Linked DNA regions of Homo sapiens. The protein of the gene in region 3 purifies or fractionates together with the protein of the main gene of each other region. This does not show direct contact. Each region holds a gene or a part of one and is shown on either strand. Other genes may lie near its edges.

What was found. Proteins that work in one complex are often made in the same cells at the same time.
Region 1: the proteins of GPI (region 3) and PLS3 purify together in Homo sapiens (affinity purification with mass spectrometry, with the first as the bait; one large-scale study listed by BioGRID). This does not show direct contact.
Region 2: the proteins of GPI (region 3) and ALDH4A1 fractionate together in Homo sapiens (co-fractionation; one large-scale study listed by BioGRID). This does not show direct contact.
Region 4: the proteins of GPI (region 3) and FKBP1A fractionate together in Homo sapiens (co-fractionation; one large-scale study listed by BioGRID). This does not show direct contact.

The regions. Positions count from the first base shown.
Region 1 is NC_000023.11:115,567,066-115,572,163, reverse strand, and holds part of PLS3 (plastin-3), read right to left. Parts: intron 1-5,098. UniProt on the Homo sapiens protein: Actin-bundling protein.
Region 2 is NC_000001.11:18,870,566-18,875,663, forward strand, and holds the end of ALDH4A1 (delta-1-pyrroline-5-carboxylate dehydrogenase, mitochondrial isoform a precursor), read right to left. Parts: intron 4,939-5,098; coding exon 4,817-4,938; intron 4,017-4,816; coding exon 3,898-4,016; intron 2,393-3,897; coding exon 2,280-2,392; 3' UTR 865-2,279; downstream 1-864. UniProt on the Homo sapiens protein: Irreversible conversion of delta-1-pyrroline-5-carboxylate (P5C), derived either from proline or ornithine, to glutamate. This is a necessary step in the pathway interconnecting the urea and tricarboxylic acid cycles.
Region 3 is NC_000019.10:34,370,358-34,375,455, reverse strand, and holds part of GPI (glucose-6-phosphate isomerase), read right to left. Parts: intron 1-5,098. UniProt on the Homo sapiens protein: In the cytoplasm, catalyzes the conversion of glucose-6-phosphate to fructose-6-phosphate, the second step in glycolysis, and the reverse reaction during gluconeogenesis.
Region 4 is NC_000020.11:1,371,565-1,376,662, forward strand, and holds part of FKBP1A (peptidyl-prolyl cis-trans isomerase FKBP1A), read right to left. Parts: intron 4,040-5,098; coding exon 3,927-4,039; intron 3,135-3,926; exon of another isoform or gene 2,920-3,134; intron 1,615-2,919; exon of another isoform or gene 1,514-1,614; intron 677-1,513; coding exon 548-676; coding exon of another isoform or gene 512-547; exon of another isoform or gene 152-511; intron 1-151. UniProt on the Homo sapiens protein: Keeps in an inactive conformation TGFBR1, the TGF-beta type I serine/threonine kinase receptor, preventing TGF-beta receptor activation in absence of ligand.

The sequences.
Region 1 (5,098 bases), on a different chromosome or scaffold from region 3:
CTTGTTTGAGGATAAAATACTGAATGCATGGGTTGGCTTATATTTTTAAACATGTAAATCTATCAATATTACTTTTCTGTTAGTTACACTTAATGATAATTTGGCTCTATTTGCTTTTTAATTACCACAGGACAAAATATAAAATTGTAATTATTCATACCCACTTGTAAAAATGATTCAACTGTAGCTTTACAATGGAGACCCACAAACTGCTCAGAATATTTTCTGAATGTGTCAATAGCCTTCATCATTTCCTGGTTTTTGCTTTTGAAAATTTCCACTAGATAAAATAATGGGCATCATAAGTATGTTTTAGATTCAGCCATTTTTAAAGGCTACATGTCATCATGAAAACATATTGGTTTACTTTATAACCCTCTGCCATCCTCAGCATTTTAAGTTTTCAATAATATATTTTCTCTTTGCCCCTACTTTTTTTTCCTCCTCCACAAGTCAGGTATCAACACTACCTATTACCTTTCATTCTGATTTAAGCTGTATTTGTTAGCGGCCTTGAGTTTATAACGGTGTCTGTAATTTACTGAGCCATGTTTCCAATTTTCCTTTGAAGGTGAGTTCTTGTTTCTTTCCTTTTCCTTTTCCTCTTTCCTTTTCTCTTTCTCTCTTTCTTTTTCTTTTTTTTTTTTTTCCAGAGTCTTGCTCTGTCACCCAGGCTGGAGGGAAGTGGCACGATCTTGGCTCACTGCAGCCTCCGCCTCCCAGACTCGAGGGATTCTTGTGCCTCAGCCTTCCAAGTAGCTGGGTACATAGGCATGGGCCAACACGCCTGGCTAATTTTTGTATATTTAGTAGAGACAGAGTTTTGCTATGTTGGCCAGGCTGGTTTCGAACTCCTGAGCTGAAGTGATTTGCCCGCCTTGGCCTCCCAAAGTGTTGGGATTACACGCGTAAACCACTGTGACGGGTCTTGGCTAGTTCTCCACATATCCTCACAAAAGAATAAATTAAATGGCAGGGTTCAGTGGCTCACGCCTGTAATCCCAACACTTTGGGAGGCCGAGGTGGGTGGTCATGAGGTTAGGAGATCAAGACCATCCTGGCTAACACAGTGAAACCCCGTCTCTACTAAAAATACAAAAAATTAGCAGGGCATGGTGGTGGGCACCTGTAGTCCCTGCTACTCGGGAGGCTGAGGCAGGAGAATCGCATGAACCCGGAGGCGGAGGTTGCAGTGAGCTGAGATCGCGCCACTGCACTCCAGCCTGGACGACACAGTGAGACTCCGTTTCAAAAAAAAAAAAAAAAAAAGAATAAATTAAACGATAAACAGGTTTCTGAGCTAAGCGAAGAAGCTTCTTCAACCTGAAACATGGCTAGAATCCTTCACATTCACAATGAAAAACAATAAAAGGAGTGTTTTTCCAATACCATTAAATAAAACACAAAAAACCCCACTAATTTCTAAAATCTTGCCAGCCTGGGCAACATGGGGAAATCCCATCTCTACTAAAAAACAAACTACAAAAAAAAGTTAGCCAGGCATGGTAGTACACGCCTGTAATCCCAGCTACTCGGGAGGCTGAGGCACGGAGATCGCTTGAGCCCCGGGAAGTCAAGGTTGCAGTGAGCTGAGATCGCACAGTTGCACTCCAGCCTGGGCGACAAAGCAAGACTCTGTCCAAAAAAAAAAAAAAAAAAAGGAAGGTAGGAAGGTACTCAAATTAGAGAAAAAGAGGTAGATATAGATGCCTGACAAAAATCATCTAAGGCAACATTAATCAACCTGTAAATGAAAATACTTATTGAGCACCTACCATATGCTAGTTGCTTTATAAGTGTTCTCATATAATAATTATGAGAACAAAGTGAAAAGTGAGTGTATTATCTTCATTTTATTCATGGGGTAACTGAGGTTCAGAGAGTTAAGAAACCTCCTCAATGCCACAGAGATATAAAATGGGAGAGCTGGCCCAGGCGCGGTGGCTCATGCCTGTAATCCCAGCACTTTGGGAGGCCAACGCAGGTGGATCACGAGGTCAAGAGTTCAAGACCAGCCTGGCCAAGACGGTGAAACCCCATCTCTACTAAAAATACAAAAATTAGCCGGGCACAGTGGCAGGAGCCTATAATCCCAGCTACTCACAAGGCTGAGGCAGGAGAATCGCTTGAACCTGGGGGATGGAGGTTGCAGTGAGCCGAGATTGTGCCACTGTACTCCAGCCTGGGCGACAAGGTGAGGCTCTGTCTCTAAACAAATAAATAAATAATAAAATGCGAGAGCTATTGGAACCCATACTTTATGCTAAAATCCATTCTGACTGTGCAACATAGCATGTAAATGATGCCCCTGAAAAGAAAAGAAAGGTAGTGAGAATGTGTTGTTGGGTGAAAGGAACCTTCCAAGTCACTTCTGGGTCATAATAGAATTCCCAGACCAATAAAGTCTTTGGTGAGTGAGGCTAGTGAACTGGAGGAAAGAGAAAAACACCATGGAAGGGTCTGTGAAATGGCATGGGTTAAGTTTCAGGAGGGATATGTAATGTACAATGAGCCATTTAAATACACAAAATATTTGTAAATTCAAGTGCTTGTAATTTAAGCAATCGCCATATACTGAAACCAGGCACAAATTAAGTGACAGCATCAGAATTTTTACTATTATTGGACCTATGTTTAGTTATATTATTTAAGCAACCTGAATGAAATGTAAAACTCTGAGTTTAACTGTAGTTTATTGAGTGATATCAAAGTACTTTAAGAAACTAATAGCCTTGAGATAAAAGGGCATATCAGCAAATAGTCATTTAGCCAACACCAGGATTAAATGTTTCTTTAGGATACTGAATGTTCATAGGCACAAATAAGCTTTGTATACTTGAACTGAGTTTTATAATAATATTAAACATAAAGGCTTCTTAAAAACAAACGTGTCTCCCTTCCCCCATTAACAGTTCCGTTTCAAAAAACAGAACTTCCTATGATTGTACACAGCACAGAATCCTACCTCATCCTGCTCTGCACCTGCTAACTAGATCAGAGAAAACCAAAATACTTCCAAGACATATACTTTACCTAAACAAGTTCCAGTTTAGAGTCACATATGATACAATACACTATATAAAGAATGGCCTTTTCTTTTTTCTTCTTCTTTTTTTTTTTTTTTTTTTGAAACGGAGTCGTGCTCTGTTGCCCGGGCTGGAGTGCAGTGGTGCAATCTTGGCTCACTGCAACCTTCACCTCCTGGGTTCAAGCGATTCTCCTGCCTTAGCCTCCCAAGTAGCTGGGATTACAGGCGTGCGCCACCATGCTCAGCTAGTTTTTTTGTATTTTTAGTAGAGACGGAGTTTTGCCATGTTGGCCAGGCTGGTCTTGAACTCCTGACCTCAAGTGATCTGCCTGCCTTGGCCTTCCAAAGTATTGGGATTACAGGCCTGAGCCACCATGCCCAGCCTTCTTTTTTTAAATGCCACTGAAATCAAGGCTATCTTTTTGTTTAAGCCAATGTTTAAATTTCAGGGACTATCAAAGGAATTCATCTTTAAAACATTCTTGGTGACTTCTAAAAAATGATAGAGTGCAAAATGATGTTCGATCAAGAATGCTTACTGAAGCATTATCTGTAAGATATGGAAACAAATGTTCAACAACTTGGAATTAGTGAAATAAATTATGAAACAGCCATTATATAAAATATACTGCAGTGATTTTAAACATTTTTAAAAATATTTGATCACTTGGAAACATGTTTATAATGTAATAAATGAAAAGAATGGGATATAGTGTTATTCCAATTTTTAAAAATTTCTCTTCCTACATATAAAATAAACATAAAAATATGAGCATTTAAAATTATAGTTACCTTGAATTTTTCTAATCCAAAGCAAAGTGATTGAAAACATCTTTAAAGTACACACTACACAAGACACTTTCCCAGTAGATTAATTCATACATGTTGAATAGTATAGCAATAGGATGTGCTCTAGGGACAATTTCGTATCATTTTCACCTCTGAGCAAACTCTTTGCACCCTATAATGGTGATTCTTCCTGATCTGAAACACAAGCCCCAAAATGTTAAAATGAACAACAAGAAATGGCAAAAATGGGAACATTCAAGCAAGTTAAGAAATATAGAAAAAAAGCTTGAAAATTACATTCATCTATGAATGAAAGCGTTATTTTCAGTGTCAACAGCAGAATGTCAATCTGAGTGCAACACGATGTAATTAGAGCTTATAATGTGGAACACAATAATATGAATATTCAAAACTATTATACGGCCCTAACAAATTTTATTTTACAGAAAGTAAAAACTTATATTATATATCACGTAAAACTTTATATAATATACATATGCACACATAAGTGTATATATACTCGTGTGTGTATGAATATCACAACTCAAGGGAATCAGACTTGTATTTTCAATGAACTGGACAGAGTATGAATGGGCGACAGAGTGAGAACCTGACTCAAAAAAAAAAAAAAAAAAAAGAAGAAGAAAAGAAAAGAAAATCCAAGTTAATAGCTTTGAAGGTGTTTATTTTTCAACTTAACTTCCCACATTTTCTGTTTTTTTTTGTTTGTTTGTTTGTTTTTCTGTTTTTCTTTTGAGATGGGGTCTCACTCGGTAGCCCAGGCTTGGAGTGCAATGGCGCAATCTCGGCTCACTGTAACCTCCGCCTCCCAGGCTCAAGCAATCCTCCCACCTCAGCCTCTTGGGTAGCTGGGACTACAAGCCCGTGCCACCGTGCTTGGCTAAGTTTTTGTATTTTAGTAGAGACGGGGTTTCACCATGTTGGCTAGGCTGGTCTCCTGGCCTGAAGTGATCCACCCACCTCGGCCTCCCAAAGTGTTGGGATGACAGATGTGAGCCACCGTGCCAGGCCATTTTTTGTGTTATTCATGGCATGCTACTTAAATGTATAGATTATCTCTTCCACTATGCAGTTTCCCAGACCTGCGTGTTGTCCTCCTTTAGACTGCAATTATGAGGAGGAAAAACTTGATTTTTTATGAGGTTTTTTACACGAAACCTCCCATTATGGGCAATCACAAAACTAAAAATGAGGTATGGTAAGCCAATGGACTCTGTAACAATTACCACTGAAGACCAAAATTCTACTCAGTAGTTAGTT
Region 2 (5,098 bases), on a different chromosome or scaffold from region 3:
CCTGCCTTGCTTTTTACTTTTAAAACTCCACTGATTTAAATGTTAATCTCATCCAAATACACCTTCACAGAAACACCCAGAATGTTTGACCAAATACCTGGGCACCATGCCCAGCCAAAGTGACACATAAAATTAACCATCACCACACAGGATAGTGGTTCTTACAACGAAAATGGGTAACGGGTATTTTTTTTTTTTTTTTTTGAGGCAGAGTCTCACTTTGTCACCCAGGCTGGAGTACAGTGGCGTGATCTCAGCTCACTGCAACCTCTGCTTTCCAGGTTCAAGAGATTCTCCTGTCTCAGCCTCCCCAAGTAGCTGGGATTACAGGTGCATGCTGCCATGCCTGGTTAATTTTTTTATTTTTAGTAGAGATGGGGTTTCACCATGTTGGCCAGCCAGGTCTCAAACTCCAGGCTTCAAGTGATCCGCCTATCTCGGCCTCCCAAAGTGCTGGGGTTACGGGCGTGAGCCACCGCACCCGGCCTTATGGGTAATATTTTTGAATCATCATGTGTCTGGCACTATTCTAAGCATGTGGAAGTGTTAACTCATTCAATTCTCATGATGACCCATGGCGGGGAGAGGGGGCGGTTACCCCATCTTATGGATGAAGAGATGGAAGGTCAGAGAGGTTGCATAACTTTGTGGCAATCATCTGGCTGGCGGGGGGGCAGTGAGCCAGGATGTGAACCCAGCCCCACCGCCTCCAACAGACAATTTCAAACATCAGCACCTACTGTTCCTTCTGTCACACTGAGAGCACTGTGCCCATGACCAGGTGACACATTGGCAATGACACCAGACTTAAAAGATGTTGGCTGCCCCCACCATCCCCTCCAGAAAGACCATCCACCACTGTGATTAAGTAACAGGCATTTTATTGGGTGGCATCTGAGCAAATCCCATTGCCACCTCACAGTGTAGAACCAGTAGAACTAAGAATACTCCAGCCTGTGCCCCCACCCAGCCACCTGCCCCGGCCCCTCATGGGAAATGACACATATCCTGGAAGGACACAGAACCCACACCCAGCCCAGCTGGCACCAGCACCCACCCCCATCCATGGGCCAGTGGCACTTGGGGAATGGCCACACCAGCTCCGGGTGGGGTCCCATGCAGGCATCCTGGAGGAAGACCCAACACTTTCACAGTCCCCTAAGAACCATCCTTGAAAGTCATGCTTTACAGATCTCTGACCACTCAGAATCCAAGCAGGAGGCATCTGTGGGAGGAATCGTGGTCACAGATTGGCTGCGTCAAAAAAAGAATGGGCCAGTGAGGGACTGGTCCACACAGAGCCACTCCCAGGCAGAGGAGGATTCTACAGGCAACGTCCTCGGCCCATGCTGACGAACCCAAGGCCAGGCCTCTGGGGGCTGGGAGAAGGGAGGGCCAATGTCTGCCTTGGCCTGTGTCACCATGGCACAGTGGTGGCTGAGCTCCTGCAGGGAAATCCCAGACCCTGAGACTGGCTCTAGGAGTGGAGGTCTCTACAGGTAGGGCCTGAGGATCAAAGGGAAGGCTGACATAGGACGAAGGCCCATCCAAGGTTTTCCAGAATCACGGCCTAAACCGGCAGGACCATCCCATCCCACGCCTTGGCAGGTGGCCTCCAGCGGCCCCCCAACCCCGCCATGTGGTGCAGACCGGGAATCACACAGGCCTCGGCCAAACACAGGCACCTGGAGTAAGGCATGCCAGCATCTAAGGTGTGTGGCTGGGGACAGGGGCCTACTGGCCCAGGTGGGTCTGGGCAAAGATACAGTGAGGAAGGTAGACAGCCCAGACCAGAGAGGGCAAGGCCAGCTGGTGCCCCCTGTGCCCCACAGGTCAGTCTGAGTTACACTTTACCCTGGACACCTGGAGGGGCAGGGATCAAGGCCAGGAGCCTCTGTGAGTGGTGAGGTTTGCCAAGGGGCCCAGAATGGCCTCCTTTTCCCCAAAGGATCCCAAGAGCTGCTCCATCTCCTTTCCCCAGGTCCCTGAGCCACTGGGCCCAGTGGAGGGCAGAGGGAGAACCTGCCAGGCACCAGGGTCATACCTCCCACATGGCCGATGGGATAAGGGGTAGTGGCCATGTTCCTCCCCAGCACGATCTCAAACCAGAGCCTGAGGCATGGGAGAGGCCAGAATACAGTGGTAAGAAGGGAGTCAAGCCCGGATTATAGAAAGGCAGCTGTGCATGAAGAAGGGGTGGAGGGGCTGGAGTGGGGTCTGTGCAGTGAGGTCGGCCACCTGGACGGACAGACAGCTGGACGGTGGAGCCCGAGAGGGGCTCACTGCATGTACGCGTAGCTCCAGTCCCCCAGGGGCTTATGTGTCTCCTTGATGACCTGCGGCGACGTCCAGCGCAGGATGTAGTGTGGGCCCCCTGGCTTGTCATTGGTTCCTGCGGAAAAGACACTTCTGTTTTTCTCTGAAAAGATGCAACAGCCTGGGCAGAAGGGGAAGGGAGGAGATGATGGAATCAACGGACCAGCAGTGTAGCGGCCAGCAGCGAGCCTGCTGCCAAGCTTGGGGCATGCAGAAGAGCCAGAGGGATGGACAGGAGACCCTGCCTCCAGTCTCCAGTCTGTGGGGAGCCTCCATTGTTCTCTCCAGTCGCACCCAGCCTTGCATCCTTGCTGGGATGCGAGGATGTCTAAGAGGCAGGGTGTGGCGTGGAGAGAACACTAGACTGAGAGGCAGGGACTTGGCATGGTCCTGGGGTGCCATAAGAGGTACATATCTAGCCTTCACCCCTGGTTCCTAGCCAGAATTCCTAAAGCTCTTGGAATTTCCAGAGTGATGGGGGTGAAAGGAGTGTCTTCCGTTATTCATAACAAGCCCCTTCTAATCACACATGAGTTTATGCTAATGAGGGCTCTTGCAGGATGGCACTGATTGGCAAAGGAACCAACCCTGTGATTAGAGGCTTGGAACCTTCAGCCCCAGGGAGGGCAGAGGGGCTGGAGGTTGAGTCGACCCCAATGGCCAATGATTGAATCAATCGTGCCTGTGTAATGCAGCCTCCATAAAAACCTAAAAGGACAGGGTCGGGAGAGCTTCCAGATTGGTGAACACGTCCACATGCCAAGGGGGTGGCACAGCCCGAACTCCAGGGGGACGGCGGTGCCCCTGCCGGGGACCCTTCCAGTCTTTGCCCTATGTGTCTGCGCATCTGGCTGTTCATCTGTATCCTTTAAAATACCCTCTGCAATACATGGGTAATAGTAAGCACGCTTCCCCTCGGTTCCGTGAGCTGTTCTAACAACGTATCAAAACTCAAGAGGGCATCATGGGAGCTTCTAATGCGTCGCAAAGTCAGACAAGGTGTGGGTAACCTGGGGTCCCAGTACTTGTGATTGGCATCTGAAGTTGGGGGGTCAGTCTTACGGGACTGAGTTCTTAACCTGTGGGGTCTGCACTAACCCCAGGCAGTGAGCATCAAGTTAAACTGTAGGACACCCAGCCAGCATCCATCAAGAGCTGGAGAACTGGTCGGTGTGGGAAACCCCAGCACGCCTGGGTTCAGCCCTGGCTCTGCCACTCAGGAGCAGTCACCTTTGGCAAGCCATTGCTCCTCCTGAGCCTCAGTTCCCCATTGTGAAGTAGAGGTTGTTGGACTTAAGGGACACTGGCTATGGTGCAGAAAGTGCGGCTGCTGGAGCCAAAATTACAATCCCACCAGGGTCATGTGGCCTTGAGCCTCAGTTTCCTCCTCTGTAAAATGGGAAGAATAGTCCCTTTGCTCACGAGTTTGCTGAAAGGACCCTGAGCTAGTGCACTTGCTTGGCCCACAATAAGTGCTCAGTAAATGGTATCCTTCCTATTACTCTGAAGCCCCTCGAGACGTAACATCTAGGGTCTCCCACCAGGAACTCAGCTCCCCTGTGGGAAGGGGGACCCACTCACCAGAGGCTCGGGCCCCCCCAAAGGGCTGCTGGCCCACTATCGAGCCAGTGGACTTGTCGTTGATGTAGAAGTTGCCGGCAGCATTCCTCAGCACCTTTGTGGCCTCCTGCACGACGTCCCTACAAAGCAGAGCAGTGGTGACAGAGCAACCAGCTCATCTCCCCTCCAGCCCCAGCTCCAGCCTCAACACCCCTGCTCCAGCCCACACTGGCTTTCCAGGTTCAACAGGAGGCCGAGTCAGGGATGAGGGATGCTGCCAGCTGTTGGCTGTGGGCCTTCGGTCAGGTTACCCAGTCTCTGAGCCCAGCTTCCTCCTCTGGGGAGGGGCTTGGCACGCCTCGTTACAGGGCTACTGCGAAGTTGAAGGGAGTGGCCTGTCCTGGTCCAATGTTCCTGTCCCTCAGGAGCAGCGGAAACTCCAGCTCCCAGGCCCACACCCTTCCTCCCTCTCCAAGCTCACCTCCACTTTCTCATAGAGGCAGACATGGGGGCAACCAGTGCCACGGAGGAAAGAAGAGGCGAAGCCTCAAGTTTAGCCTCATGTGACCCAGGTTCGAATCCTGCCTCTGCAGCCCCTGGCCTGCCCTGCTTTGTAGCATGGGACAATCACCTCACTCAGTGGGGCAACACCAGATCCCGCAGAGCCAGTCGAAGACACCAATTCCTAGCCCTGCCCCTAGAGGTTCAGATCCACTGGTCCCCAGTGGCACCCTGGCACCGGCACCACCAGTACCGGCAACAAAGAGCCTGCTGCTGTGGGCCCATGTGGCGAGCCCTGGCTGCCTGTCTGGGCTGAGGGGAGGGGACAGAGAGAAGGTAGGGGCAGCATTATTACTGGGAACCACGTCCAGGAGGTGGGGATGGGGACACGGACAGGACACCCGGAGCACAGCACCAGGGCTGCGGCCTGGCCACTCACTTATCCTGGGAGAACACTGCCCCCGTGAGGCCATAGCTGGTGGTGCTGTCAACCAGCTGCAGCGTCTCCTTGTACTTGTCATCCGGGTAGACGTACACAGACAGTACAGGCCCGAAGATCTCCTAGGAGAGAGGCCCCGGCGTCAGACCCTCCACGGGACCAGGGACCAGGGCCCTGAGCCCTCCCAGTGCCCCTGCTCTGGCTCACCCTCTCCCCAGTCCCTGGGCCTCAGTTTACACTTCAGTGTCTGCAAGAAGGGTCAGGTGTCGCCTCCTCCTGGGT
Region 3 (5,098 bases):
TACTGCTAGGCCGGGCATGGTGGCTCACACCTGTAATCCTGGCACTTTGGGAGACCAAGGCAGGCAGATCACAAGGTCAGGAGTTCGAGACCAGCCTAGTCAACATGGTGAAACCCCGTCTCTGCTAAAAAAAAAAAATACAAAAATTATCCAGGCATGGTGGCGTGTGCCTGTAATCTCAGCTACTCGGGAGGCTGAGGCAGGAGAATTGCTTAAATCCAGGAGGCAGAGGTTGCAGTGAGTGGAGATCACGCCATTGCACTCTAGCCTGGGCGACAGAGCAAGACTCCGTCTTAAAAAAAAAAAAAAAAGTGTATTGCTGTTTTAACCCAAGTTTTGATGTCATTTGTTATACAATGATAGATAACTAATACAGATTTTGGTATCAGAAGTACAGTGTGGTCATAATAAAAACCTAAATATGCAGGCCGGACTCAGTGGCTCATGCCTATAATCCCAGCACTTACTGGGAAACTGAGGCAGGAGGATCACTTGAGGCCAAGAGTTTAAAACTAGCCTGGGCAACATAGCAAGACGTCATCTCTACAAAAAATAAAAAAGTAGCCAGGCATGGTGACATGTGCCTGTAGTCCCAGCAACTTAGAAGGTTGAGGTGGGGAATTGCTTGAGCCCAGGAGTTCGAGGCTGCAGTGAGCAGTGACTGCACCACTGCACTCCAGCCTGGGCGACAGTGTGAGACCCTACCTCAAAAAAAAAAAAAACAAAGAAAAAAAGAAAAAAGAAAGAAAAGAAAAGAAATAATTATCCCATACATACCAGTCATCCCATGCCCACCTCACCATTGTATGCTGGGTGTGTGAGGGGTAATTTGTCTCTTTAAATTCTCATGTCTTCAGATTGAAAGGAACTGTACTAAAGGAAATGCAGGTACTACTACACCTGTACTTGACAAAATGAGGTTCTAGACTTCTAACAGACTTCTAATACTGTAACAGAATATGGACTTAGGAGAAAGTGAGTGGGGTATCTGTGTGTGGAAGGAACAAAATCAATCACTAGGCGCCAGAAGCGGGACTATGATAGTCCCCCACCTTCTAAGATGGTGACCAGTGGTCCTTGTCTCCTGGCATTAACCCACTGATGCAGTCCCTTCCCATGATGACCAGAGCTGATCTGTAACACCAACGGGGTATTATAGAAATCAAAGAGTGTAGCCGGGCGTGGTGGTTCACCCTGTAATCCCAGCATTTTGGGAGGGCAAGGCAGGCGGATCACTTGAGATCAGGAGTTCAAGACCAGCCTGGCCAAAATGGTGAAACCCCATCTCTACTAAAAAAATTTAAAAAAAAAAAAAAAAAAAAAAAGGCGGGCATGGTGGCGGGCACCTGTAATCCCAGCTACTCAGGAGGCTAAGGCAGGAGAATCGCTTGAGCCGGGGACCGGAGGTTGCAGTGAGCCAAGATCACGCCATTGTACTCTGGCCTGGGTGACAAGAGTGAAACTCTGTCTCAAAAAAATAAAAATAAAAAAAAGAAAGAATGTGAATCCTGATATTAGGTCACAAAAGACCTCCAGGCATCTGCCTTACTCTCTATTGGATCACTCACTCTGGGAGAAATAAGCTGCCTTGTCATGAGGACACTCGAACTGTCTGTGCCTCCCAAAGGCAGCACTGCTAGTGAGCCATCTTCAAAGCAGACCCTCCAACCCCCATGAAGCCTTCAAATGACCACATCCTTAGCCAACATCTTGACTGCAACCTTAGAATATCAGAGCCACTACACCAAACACAGCCACTGCAAATTCCCCACATAAAGAGACGGTGATTGTTGCTTCTAGTTGCTAAATTTTGGAATAATTTCCCACACATCAATAAAAAATTACTATACACTAATAAGATCCAGCAATTTTCTTTTAATTTTTTTTTTTTTTTTTTTGGAGATGGAATCTTGCTCTGTCACCCAGGCTGGCATGCAGTGGTGCTATCTCAGCTTACTGAAACCTCCACCTCCCGGGTTCAAGCGATTCTCCTGCCTCAGCCTCCCAAGTAACTGGGACTACCGGCATGCACCACCATGCCCAGTTATAAATTTTTTTTTTTTTTTTGAGACAGAGTCTCGCTCTGTCACCCAGGCTGGAGTGCAGTGGCGCCATCTCAGCTCTCAGTAACCTCCACCTCATGGGTTCAAATGATACTGCTGCCTCAGTCTCCTGAGTAGCTGGAATTATGGGCGCCTGCCACTACTCCTGGCTAATTTTGTTTGTATTTTTAGTAGAGACGGGTTTTGCCATGTAGGCCAGGCTGGTCTCAAACTCCTGACCTGAAGTGATCCGCCCACCTCGGCCTCCCAAAGTGCTAGGACTACAGGTGTGAGCCACAGCACCCAGACTATAAATTATTTTTTAATTAAAAAAAAAAAATAGGCTGGGCACGGTGGCTCACGCCTATAATCCCAGCACTTTGGGAGGCTGAGGTGGACAGATTATGAAGTCAGGAGTTCGAGACCAGCCTAGCCAACATGGTGAAACTCCATCTCTACTAAAAACACAAAAATTAGCTGGGTGTGGTGGCAGGTACCTGTAATCCCAGCTACTCGGGAGGCTGAGGCAGGAGAATCGCTTGAACCTGGGAGGCGGAGGTTGCAGTGAACCGAGATCAGGCCATTGCACTCCAGCCTGGGTGAAAGAGAGAGACTCTGTCTCAAAAAACAAACAAACAAAAAAGAGACAGGGTCTAGGTTGCCCAAGCTAGTCTTGAACTCCTGGCCTGCAGTGATCCGATTCACCCTTCCAAAATGCTGGGATTATACAAGAGCCACTGCACCTTGCTGGGTATTTTTTAGTTTTGTTTTAACGACAGGGTCTCGCTCTGTTGCTCGACCTGGAATGTAGGAGTATGATCATAGCTCACTGCAGCTTCAAATTCCTGGGCTCAAGCAATTCTCCCGCCTCAGCCTCCTAAGCAGCCAGGACTATAGGTACACACCACCACAGCTGGCTAATTTTTAAATTTTTGTTAAAGGCAGGGTCTTGTTATGTTGCCCAGGCTGGTATTATACTCCTGGCCTCAAGCAATCCTCTTGCCTCTGCCTCCCAAAGTGCTGGGATTACAGATGTGAGCAACTGTGCCTGGCCCTACTTTTTCTTTAAATAAACTGCCATGGGAAAATTTCCATCAATACAGAAAGAAATAAAATAAGTTGTTCAACTTCTCAACCCTCCCTCACAGGCGTGTGACAAAAGAGGTTAGAAAAAGCAAGTCTTGGCTGGGTGTGGTGGCTCATGCCTGTAATCCCAGGACTCTGGGAGGCCAAGGTGGGTGGATCACCTGAGGTCAGGAGTTCGAGACCAGCCTGACCAACATGGTGAAACCTCATCTCTACTAAAAATACAAAAATTAGCTGGGTGTGGTGGCGGATGCCTGTAATCCCAGCTACTCAGGAGGCTGAGGCAGGAGAATTGCTTGAACCTGGGAGGCGGAGGTTGCAGTGAGCCGAGAACTCGCCATTGCACTCCAGCCTGGGCAACAGAGTAAGACTCTGTCTCAAAAAAAAAAAAGCAAGTCTCCTTTCCCGACTGTCAAAGGTTTGTTATAATGAAGCATCCCAGAGGAAAAATGTGTCTTTTTTTTTTTCTTTTTGAGACAAAGTCTCACTCTGTTGCCCAAGCTGGAGTGCAGTGGCGTGATCTTGGCTCACTGCAACCTCCACCTCTGGGGTTCAAGTGATTCTCCTGCCTCAGCCTCCCGAGTAGCTGGGACTACAGGCATGCACCACCATGCCAGGCTAACTTTTTTGTATTTTTTTTTAGTAGAGATGGGGTTTCATTATGTTGGCCAGGCTTGTCTTGAACTCCTGACCTCGTGATCCACCCACCTCGGCCTCCCAAGGTGCTGGGATTACAGGTGTGAGCCACTGCACCAAGCCAAATGTGTCTATCTTTATTACAATTACACCCAGCCTTCATTTGACCAAATGAGTCTTTACCATACCCACCAATTCTGCAACTTCCTTTTTCAACTTCCCAGTCCATCCTGAACAGCATGGCAGATCAATCCAACTATAGCTCCCTAATCCCTATTGGTGCCCAGGATGACAGTATATGAATATGTGCTGACTCTACTTTGTAAGTCCCCTGACAAATGAGTACAGCTTGGTTTCAGGTTTTGCCACTACAATCAAGGTCACAGTGAACGTCTTCACCCAATCTTGGCAAACTTTGGAGAGCACAGCCATGGGGAATGTTCCTCACCAGGGGATTACTGCCATTCAGCAACTTTTTTTGAACTATAAATACCTTATCAGCCTGAGTCAGGTACTCCAGTGGCCAGCTTTAAGGGAAGGCTTTCCTGGAAACAGCACCCCAGACGGTGCAGTGCCATCCTCGCCATGTGGCATGGCTGAGCACACCCAGACTGATCACACAGCACTAGGCTTTTAATGCACTTCAGCTCTGCCACTCACAGCAGATGGCTGGAAAGGCCCCGCCACACACCCAAAGACCATCACATGGACTGATCACCCTAAGTGACATTCAGGAAATCCAGATTCCCATCAGGACCCCACAACTTCCTTGCCCTGGAGGCGTCTCACTCTGTCACCTGAGCTGGAGGACAGTGGCACAATCTCAGCTCAGTACAGACTCAACCTCCCGGGCTCAAGCAATCCTCCCACCCCAGCCTCCCAAGTAGCTGGGATACACCACCACACCTAGCTGATTTATTTATTTTTTCCAGAGATGGGTTGGTTTTTTTGTTGGTTTTTTTTTTTTGAGACAGAGCCTCACTCTGTCACCCAGGCTGGAGTGCAGTAGCGTGATCTTGGCTCACTGCAACCTCTGCCTCCCGGGTTCAAGAGATTCTCCTGCCTCAGCCTCCCCAGTAGCTGATATTACAGGTGCTCGCCACCATGCCCGCCCAGGTAATTTTTTTGTATTTTTAGTACAGACGGCGTTTCACCATGTTGATCAGGCTGATCTCAAACTCCCGACCTCACATGATCCACCTGCCTCAGCCTCCCAGAGTGCTGGGATTACAGGCGTGAGCCACTGCACCCAGCCCATTTTCAGGTCTGAAAGTGGCTCTTGGCCAAAGTAACTGGACTCTGACCAGCCACACATGGAGGCCACTGCTCCTAGG
Region 4 (5,098 bases), on a different chromosome or scaffold from region 3:
CCGATGCAGGAATGCCTCCCTCATACCATCTAATAGGCAGTAACCACAAACCACAGTGAAGAGAGAGCCGCAGAAGCTAGGACATGATATTCATATCCAAAGGGCTTTTTTTTTCCCCCTCTAGCTTCTAGAAACACAGGGTAGAACAAAGTCATTCATTAAGAGTCTTATTTCCAAAGAACTAAAATGTTGGCACTACAAATTTGGCCTACATTTCCATAGTCCTCAATTCAGTTTTAATTTATAAACTACATAGAAAAACATTTAAACAGCTGCCATCTCCATGAGTTGAACTGGGAACATACACATGCCAATTCCTTTCCTTAGGGTGACCAATTTTTACATTCAAAGCATACACTAATAACACTGAAAGGATACTCAATACAGAAAGAATGCAGGGGGAAAAATAGCCTTGTGGTGTTTTTTGTTCTCTCTGCTACCCATCAAACGCTGGGCATAACATGGGAGGAGCAAAGGCAGTGAAGGGCCCTTCAGTATTCCATTTCCTTACCCAAGAACAGGGAGCTAAGGGAGGAGGCCATTCCTGTCATTCCAGTTTTAGAAGCTCCACATCGAAGACGAGAGTGGCATGTGGTGGGATGATGCCTGGGTGCCCAGTGGCACCATAGGCATAATCTGGAGATATAGTCAGTTTGGCTCTCTGACCCACACTCATCTGTGAAAAGAACAAGGAAGACAGACTCAGCTGGACACATGCCCCAACTGTCTCTGTAAGAAAAAGAGCTGTTTACCTAGGTGTTCCTTGGCCAGGATGGTATTGACTTTCCAGTGACTTTGCAGCTGCCCAGGCATCACCACCTCCTTGTGCAGGACTTGGAGGTTGGCAGTCATATTCCATCACCCCTGCATCTCACTCCAAGAAGCCCAATGGCAGTTCAAAACCCCTCCTGACTCTCAGAACGGTCAGGCCCTCAACCTTTCTACGCAAGTCTTAATGACTAATGCTAGGCAGGTAACATTCCAGATGTCTCACCACCTAGTCCCCTTCAGTGATCTGTCACTTAAAGGACATGTTAAGTGCCATCTATGCTCTTCTTGAAAAAGGAATACTCAACTTTGCTTTAAAAAAATATATACACAGGAAGTAATACTTGAGGGTAGTCTATTTTTTCTGTATTTTTTCTATTTATACTCTTTTACCCATATAGGAAAACTTCAAAAAAGACAATATGATTTTCTGGGCTACAAAATAGCATTTACTGAATACCATTTGTGAAAATATTGATATGCCTACAACAGAAAACATCTTTGGAAGGACATACCAGACATTTGCTGTGAGGAGAACAGTATGGATAGTGAGTGACCAGTAAGGAGAGATTTCTACTTTAAAAAATATATTTGTGTATATTTTCAGTTTCAAATTAAATACACAAATAAGTATAAAATATCTACTTTCTGAACAGTGAGCAGGTTCTCTGCAGTATTTCCATCCTTTGACTTATCTCTGCTTTTGGTCTCCATGTGTATGTTCCCGACTTTCCAACTCCACCAGACAGAGGATGAATAAAGAGGAAGCTCCAGGCTGTGAAGCGTCTAGTCCTTGCTCCCCTCAGAAGCTGGGACATGTTGGACCAAGGTGGTAAGGATAGTGAGGTATGGCTTTACCTTGTACAATTCAAAACAATCATATTCCTTGACTCAGCAATTCTATTTCCAGAATATTCTGCTAACAACTCAAAAGTCCATCACAGAAGGAGTGGTTTCATAGGCATATCCACACCAGGGATTAGTCATGAGAAATCATATAGTGGTGGCTTTAAATGTATTAACATGAAAAGATGTCCAAGATGGATGAAAGAAAGCTGCCAAAATGGTCCTTGTGGCAGGCAGGACTCCACGCCTGCAAACATGTAAAACCAAAACAATATCAAAAGGAAAGGAAAAGGGTCACAAGTCAATCTCCCCTTCTTCCTGTGTTTTTAACTCACTTGGTGAAAAAATATGCTATGAAGAATTTAAAAGATATTTTATGTAGATCTCAAACTACCCAGACTTCTCACAAATGACAGGGCTGTGACTGACCCCAAAATACCAGTTAAAGGGGGAGTCAGGCATCTGTCCAATACTCGACCATGCCTCTCCAAGCCTGGGAAGTGAAGTAGGCCGATAACACTATCTCGATGGCAGATACAGCACTCAGTACATACAACGCAGTGATTGTTCCAATGCTGGAGCAGTCACAGAAGATGGGTTGTGGTATGAACAATGGCTGGCATGAAAGATGGGGGATGGGCTACAGATCCAAGAGCCAGACAGACTAGGGAGACAGAGGCAAAAAGCTATGGTTGGCAAGGTTTCCCAAGGGAAGTAAACTACAAAGCCTCTTCCTCACACTGCCAACCCTCTGCCCTGCAGGAACAGAAACCCAGACACCTGGGAGTGGGATGGCTTCAAGTTCCTGAAAGTTGAGCAGTTTATTTGGAGATAAATCAGTGATATTTTATAGAGGAAGTAGAGCAATGTGTATTCTGGAAAAGAGAGAGACAGAAATCTGTCTTTTCATCTTGGTTAAATTTCTAATTCTCCTGGGTGAGAGGGAAGCAGACTAATTACCCATCATGCAGAGCCTAATTATAAAGTTCCTTGGGTCTCAGGTCACTGAAAAACATCCCTTTACCTGGTTAGAGCCAAGAAAAAATTCCTAGGTTTGATGGAAAGACAGAATCCAACTAAAATTTGGCAACCCTGGGTCCCTATTGTCTCCTGGGAATTTTGTAGTGTTGGCAGAACAAAAGCTGTTTCCACAAATGGGGAGGAAAGAGATTAGGAAACACACTCAAGACAAACGAAATGACTTTCTCCATAAGTATGACGTCTCAGAAGTGGTCTCACACAATATGGGTAATAGATAAATACAAATTAAAACCACTGATATCATGTTTTACTCTTATTGTCCAGAGGCCAAAGATTTAACAATATACTGTGATGCTGGGGCTGGGAGGAGATTGCACCTTTATAGCCTGGTGGTGGCAGTCCAGAGTGCAACCCCTAGAGATGGTAACTTGACAAGACCTCTCAAAAACACTACACACAGCTTTTGAGCCCCTCATCCCACTTCTGAGAGTAAGTCCTATGGCAACATGTGCACACGTGGAAAATGAAGTCTGTACAAGGTGAGTTACTGCAGCATTGTTTATAATAGCAAAATACTGGAAATGACTCAAATACTCATTAATAGGGCACTAGCCAAGTAAATTATAGCACACTTACATAAACGAATACTAGGCAGCTGTAACAGAGCTTACTCCTCATTTTTTCTTTCTTTTTTGAAATGGAGTTTCGCTCTCGTCATCCAGGCTGGAGCGCAATGGCACAATCTTGGCTCACTACAACCTCCGCCTGCTGGGTTCAAGTGATTCTCCTGCCTCGGCCTCCCAAGTAGCTGGGATTACAGGCACCTGCCACCACGCCCGGCTAATTTTTGTATTTTTAATGGAGATGGGGTTTCGCCATGTTGGCCAGGCTGGTCTCGAACTCCGGACCTCAGGTGATCCATCCATCTTGGCCTCCCAAAGTGCTGGGATTACAGGAACTCCTGACCTCAGGTGATCCACCCATCTTGGCCTCCCAAAGTGCTGGAATTACAGGCATGAGCCACCGCGCCCAGCCTACTCCTCTTTTATGTAGTGGTATTGCAAGTGTCAAAAATGCATTAAGTGAAAAAGTAAACTGCAAAACAGTATGTGTGTGAAAGCAAGAAAAAAGTTATGTTTTTATATGTGCTTAAACCACAGTACAAGAAACATTAACAACAGGAGCTTCTTGTGGGGGTATTGGTCAGATGGGATGGCATGAGGGTGAGACTTTTCACTTTTTTTATTTTTGAACCGTATAAATATGCCACCTATAAAAAAATATAAAAGGTAAATACTAGAAAGCAAAACAAAACAAATGAGAGAGCATACCTGGGCAACCCCTTCTTCCCAGCCTCGGATCACCTCCTGCTTGCCTAGCATAAACTTAAAGGGCTTGTTTCTGTCCCGGGAGGAATCAAATTTCTTTCCATCTTCAAGCATCCCTGTGAAAAAGACGACTGTAACATGAGCAGCAGAGTAATGACACAAGACAAGTCAGAAACCAGCAGCAGAGCACTCATCAGAGATGCCAGTGCTGAAGAGTCTGGCAGGAACTGCAGTATCTAGGGAGGGTTTCCTGTGACCTCACTGGACATCTAAGGAGTTGCGACAGTCCTACTCCAGACCTGTGAATGCTCTTCCCTGACTCCAAGCAATAACTCGACTACAAAAGGACCCCGCGTACCAGAGATGAGCGGCAGTCCACCTTCTTCTGGAGATGGGGAGTATAAACTTCCTCCTGCCCTGACTCTCCCAGCACCCCGTGGATTTTCTCCCCAGCTAAAAATAACTGTGGTCCCTCGAGGTGCACACTATGTCTAGAAGTCACACACAGTGCAAGAAGCAATATTCCTTCCCAAAATCCCCCATCATCTTTCACATATAATGTGTGTATATATTGCTCCTCCATTGTTCAGTGCAGGCAAATCCCCCTCCACCATCTGCCACCCCCATGGGCTCCTCTGTGGTTCACTAATTGTGACCTACACACATTGCTGCTCTCCAGGCTGTGGGTCAGCACTATGGGATGTGGTAAGAGGAAGCTATAAGGCAAGCTTTCACCCTCATTCTAGTGCCAAGTGTCTCACACCAACAGGGAACCTGGGGCGTAAAGCTGGCCCCTTGTAGGCTGGTTCCTGAGTTGTCATAATTTTCCTGGGAAAGTAAAAACCAACCTAGGCTGAAATAGAGAAATGAAAGAAAGAATTTGTGCAGCATTCATCCCACTTATTTTATCCAATGCTGCCCCACAAAACAACCCATGCTCATTTTTGCACAGCTAATACTTTGTAACAGAGATGACTGAAGAGAACAGGAATACTAAGGAGGTTGCAGTGGTGGCCCTTCAAGAATTAACTCAGTAAACCCAGCCAACTGCTAGCAACTCTGTGGCCAGTGGTTCCACTCTGAGTTACTCTAAATGGGCTAGGTGCTTTCCACACATGAACGAATGCAATTCTTTCTCCACAGCACTATCCCCATTTCACAGATGAAGAAACTGA